2 separate regions of the Homo sapiens genome follow, and region 1 is linked to region 2. A link means that fine-mapping ties the variant in region 2 to the expression of a gene that starts in the linked region. Tissue or cell type: unexposed skin. Region 2 holds a variant in brackets; the other region holds the start of a gene. All regions are shown on one strand. Distances are between the middles of the regions.

Region 1 (2,623 bases), 36 kb before region 2:
TTTATGTTAAAAACAAAAACATTTCTCAAACATTCACCATCGTGAGTTCTGCTGTCCCGAAGTTCAGGACACAGTGACGGGCCACCCTGGAGCGTGTGGGGCCTGGTGTGGCTGGGCCTTCAGCCCTCCTTCTAGGCAGCACACCATGAATCCCCGGTGCCGTCTCCCGGAGGAACGGCGGTGCACGGCCCCACACTCACCAACGCCGGCCTGAGGTCGTATTACTGTAATTTCCCATAATGCTTAAATTATTTATCGCAAGTAAATAGCCTGGCTCCTGAGCGCTGGGCTCTAAAATTTTGAAGGATCCATCATACCTCTGCACGCTATCTATAAATGAAAAATGCACATTTCAAGTATTTTAAGAAAATGTCAAAAAACATGAAATGTGTCATCAATGTACGATTTTAAATGATTTGCATGTTACCTGTAGAAAAGAGCTGTATGTCTGCATGTGACTGTATTACAGTGCCCACAGGCAGACGCGGCACCACATCTCCCTGCAGGTGATAATTCGGGGGTCCCCGGGGCCCCCTGGCACCCCGGGAGGTGTCCCTGCAGGCCTGTCCCATGTCACCTCACCTGCCTTCTCTGCTTTCTATGGCGCCCACGGCTGCACGGTCACTCAGGAGACACCAGTCCCCGGGGTTGGCGGCTTTATCTACAGGACTCAGCAGCGCACTCGTTCCTGGCAGGGCAGGTCTTTGCACAACGGCCTGGCCCTGCCTCCAGCGCACATGGGTGAGCAGAGGATGGACACCGCGCGGTCACCAAGGAGACTGAGCCTCTGAGCGGCCGGGCCCCGCCACCTGTGGGGCAGGAGCCTCACTCGCACTCGGGCGGCACAGGTGAGCGCCTCTCTAACTGCAAAGTACAAACGAGCCCGCACGTGGGCCCGAGCGGATCACGGAAAGCGGAAAGCAGGGCTGCCACGGGCGGTGGGCGGAGGCGCGCGCAAGCCCGGAGACGCCACAGCCGCGGGGGACCCTCGCCCCGAGGGCCCGGGCCCAGCCTGCTCCTCCTGCGGCGCCGCCACTAGAAACGGAGGACGCGGGCGGGCGCCCAGAACTCGCGTGGGGCCGCAGCCACCCGGCGCGAGCTTCTCCGGAAGCCGGGGCGCCCCGGGAAGCCGTCCCGGACACCGGGGGAACCCCTGCGGGAAAAAGCCGCCCAGCCGCGCCCGCCCCTGCAATAGCGCGCGGCCCCCACGTCGTCCCCGTGCCCGCACTCACCGTCCTCCTTGTCGTCAAACACCGGCCTCCGCGCGGTGGCCGCCGACATGGACGAGCCCATCCTCTTCTTCCACTTGCTCCACTGAAACAGGGGGCGCGGCTGCGAGCGGACATCGCCCGAGTCCCGGGCCCGGGGCTGGCCAGCAGCGGGCGGCGGCAGGGCCGAGGGCGCGTCGGAGCCGGCGGGGCGCGCGCGGCCGGGGGGCGGCGAGCCCGGGGACGCCGCGGCGCTGCTGCCCCTGCGCTCGGCGCCACTCCTCATCGCCGGGTCTGGGTGCGCGCGGCAGCCGGAACTCGGGGCATGGCCGGCCGGCAGGGCCGGGAGCGGCAGTGGTAGCGGGAGCGCTCGGGGCCGGCAGCGCCCGCCGTGCGCTCTTCTGGGCGGTGGAACCCGCCCCGTAGATTGCGAGCGCTGGGGGCGGGGCAGGGGCGGGGCTTCTGGAAGGGGCGGGGGCGGGGCGGAGCTCCTGGAAGGGGTCGAGGCGGAGCTGAGCGCCGGGGCGTGGCAGGTGCGGAGCTTCGGGAAGGGTAGGGGCGGGGCCGAGCCGGGGGCGGGGCAGGGGCGGGGCTAGTGCCTGGAGTGTCGCTAGGGAGTGGGTGGCCGCCACCAGTCTAGGGATGGGGGCTGTGGTTCGCCGGGACACGGGGACCACGGCTCAGACTAGACGGCGGGTACGAGAGCGAGGGAGGCAGGGAGCGTCCCCACGGGTATCCTGGGGCCCCGGAGGTCGGCGTCCCTGGCACGGGGACTGCTGTGCCCGGCACGGCGGCGGGACCTTCTCGCGGTCTCCGGGGGCCTCCCTCCCCTGCCTTCTTCGTGAAAACAGCCGGCGCGCGGGCTTCCGCCGCCCAGTGCGGGGAGCCCTAAACTCCAGCCTTCTGCTTTGCGCAGGGTGAGGCCGGGCTGCAGGCCCGGGATGCGGGCGGCGGGAATCTGCCGGGCAGAGCCCGGCTCACGGTCAGGAGGCGGCAGGCTGAGTCCAAGCGCTGCGCCAGAGGGTGGGGTGGGGCAGGGCGGGCCTGGCTGCGCGCGCGCACACGCGGGCGCCTGGGGTGGGCGCTAAGCCCTGAGCACGTGCGCCCGCGCTCTCGGGCACCCCCGTGCCATCCTCGCGACCCCCGTCCGGCCTGAGACCGCGTGCCCGAGTCGCCCAGGGTCCCCTTGTCCAGATGCGACAGGGGCCTCGGCACTCGGCGTATTTCGGAGGCCTGGGGCGCGGCTTGACCTCCGGGCACCTCTGCCCCTGCGCAGGGCCAGGCGCGACCTTGCGCGGAAAGTGCTGGGCGCCTTGGAGTGCCCTGGAGAAGGCGCGGCTCTGCATGGAGCCTCGCCGCCTGCCCCTGGCGCTTGTCACTGAAGAATCAGTTTTTGCTACCGGGCTGTTTGACTT
Region 2 (2,750 bases):
TCAAAATGTTACCTGTGGAGCTGGGTAAGTATAAAATAATAAAAAGATGATTTTAAAATGCTATCTTTTGAACTTGCCAGACCTTGTAATGGAAGTATCAGGCATGACAAAGGAGGGTAAGCTAGATATTTTAAAAATCCTTCCTACTTCTAGGACCAAGATAATGTAGCTCTCAAGAACTGTTGATATAGCACGTACTGTTCTTATGGAGGTGTGACGTGTGAGCCTTGTGTGAGGCACAGTCACAGTGAGGGCCATTGGCGCCGTCACACAGCTAAGGAAACTGAAGGCCCCGCACACACCTCTGCAGGCCCTGCGTGCTGTCTCCGCTGCATCTCGCTGGCCTTCCTGGGAAGTTTTACCACTTACGTATGTTCCTAGGCCCCATCATGACCACTTTTTTAGACTTCAGAATCTAAACACTCAAAACCAAAAGCATAAACTGACAGACAAATCAAACAAGCGTAAACTATCACAGAAGCAAGTTTTATGACCTTTAAAATATCTAGCAGAAACAGTATAAATTTGTCGGACTAGTAGCCCAGGAAAAAATGTCTAAAATTCTGAAGGCATTTCTATTATGAACTTGAGAAGCATTTTGGAGAACTAATTTATGAGTACTCATTTATTTGTAAGTCACTTGCTACCATGTAGACAGTATAAAAACAGACATGTATACGCATGTATACATAAAAGTACAAACATTAAGATTGTATAGCTTTGATTTTATTTTTAGCCATGAATCAGATAAAACTCATTAGTTTAAAAGAACAGTTGAGACCACGCATAGTGGCTCATGCCTGTAATCTTAGCACCTTGGGGCGCCAAGGCAGGAGGATCCCCTGAAGCCAGGAGTTTGAAACCAGCCTGGGTAACATAGTGAGACCCCATCTCTACAAAAAATAAAATAAAATAAAATTAGCCAGGTGCAGTAGTGCATGCCTGTGTTCCTAGGTACTTAGGAGGCTGAGGCAGGAGGCTAACTTGAGCCCAGGACTTCAAGGCTGCAGTGAGCTCTGATTGCACCACTATACTCCAACCTGGACAACAGGGCGAGACCCTCTCTCTAAAAACAAAACAACAACAACAACAAAAAACAAAAATAAAAGAACAGTTAGGTTAAATTGTGCCTTTGTAAATGGAACGAGTTATGGCTGGAACCCTTACACAGTTTTAGAGAAAACAGAATAGCAAATTTACACTTCAAAGAACAGAGAGAGAATTTAAGCTTTTTAAAGAAGGAGTTTGGGTGTGTTTGAAGACTAAAAATGGATGACAAGATAATACAGAGTCACTTGCCACAGGATTTGATAAGGAAACGAATTTCATTTAGATAGGTAGCTTCTAGTTTAGTCTCTGTTTTCCAACTGGACCAGTGAGCTCAGGGCAGAGCCCATTAATGGACAGGGCCAACAAGGCATTTGCAGTTTGTAGAGCCTAATACTTAACCTACATGTGAAAAGCGAGCGC[G/A]GCTGAAAGGTGGGACACCCAAATACCCAAAATCCAAGCATCCATCTTTCACACTGAACCCTGGCTCCCTCAGATTGGGAAACGCCACAGGACTAGGGCCCCTGCAGTGCTTCCCCGTGCTCCTCATTCCGGGGACTTCGCCCTGAGCCTGGGGAGTGAGCCAGCCCCCACCAGCCCACTGCCCACCACGGGAGCCTTACCTCTCAGCGGCCATCGTTTCCAAAGCCTCCAAGTTCACATAATTTCCATTTTTAGTGACATTTCACATTTGTGGAGTCCTTGTATTCTATTTTCTTCTAATTAAACACAATTTTCTTCATTTGCTTGAACATATTTAAATGGTTGCTTTGAAGTCTTTGTTAAACCCAACATCTGGGCCTCCTCCAAGACAGTTTCCATTGTCTGCTCCGTTCCTGAGTGTAGGGTACATTTTCCTTTTCTTTGCATGTCTGGTAGTTTTTATGTGGAAAATGGGCATTTTAGATAATATAGCGACTTTGTATTCTGAATTTTACAGAATTGTGAAGGTGGTTGTGGCTGCTTCTGTTTGTTTGATTTTATTTATTTGTTTTTTGGAAACCATCCTGGTCTTAATTTGCGGAATCCGTCTCCTGCAGAGTTACCTTTAAAGCAAATCTTTGACATCTGTTAACGTGATTTTCCCCCAAATACTGAATAGAATCATATTTTAAAATGTGAAAAGTTACTATTATTTATTCCTCATTTTCATTTCAAGAATGGTATATAGAATGCTGACAGTTTTTTTTTCCTCCACTGCAGGGAGCGTAACCACGCTGAAAGCACTGAACCTAAGACACTGCCCTCTGGAATTCCCTCCTCAGCTCGTTGTGCAGAAGGGATTGGTGGCTATCCAGCGCTTCCTGCGGATGTGGGCAGTAGAACACTCTCTCCCCAGAAATCCAACTTCTCAAGGTTTGTAGGAGGTGATTTATGACAAATCACATTAACGTTGAAGTTACAGCTTTTTAAAATCAGGGCAGAACCTGTCTTCTCTTTAATAACATCCTGAGAAATACAGGAGCCATGGGTCCTCTGCTGAGTTGACACAGTGTACACTGATCTCAGGCCGACCCAGTCATCTCTGTGACTTTTCCTTGGTTCTATAAATCTGGGCACATTATAGATCCTGGCTCAAGTGGATTTTGGTAGAAGTTTATTGTGATCAATCAAATGAAACAGTTATCACCTCCAAGCCACCCGCAGGCGGCTGCTTCAGGAATGACTTGATGCTGCATTAGGCAGCTATTTTAAAATAAGTA

Evidence for each region. PIP is the estimated chance that this variant, and not a neighbour inherited with it, causes the effect.
Region 1: it holds the start of STK32C, and the variant in region 2 is fine-mapped to the expression of STK32C in unexposed skin (GTEx, PIP above 0.99). The same link has a PIP of 0.9 or more in sun-exposed skin and whole blood.

What each region holds. Positions count from the first base shown.
Region 1 is chr10:132,306,340-132,308,962 of GRCh38, forward strand. STK32C (serine/threonine kinase 32C) reads right to left here and starts at 1,611. Exons shown (of 12, transcript NM_173575.4): 1 at 1,233-1,611. The coding sequence starts at 1,494. RefSeq lists a silencer at 1,435-2,084 and an enhancer at 2,337-2,623.
Region 2 is chr10:132,342,248-132,344,997 of GRCh38, forward strand. LRRC27 (leucine rich repeat containing 27) reads left to right here. Exons shown (of 11, transcript NM_030626.3): 4 at 1-24; 5 at 2,251-2,403. Among named protein-coding and RNA genes, the nearest start is that of LRRC27, 11 kb to the left of the region's middle. The variant G/A (reference allele first, on the strand shown) is at 1,471.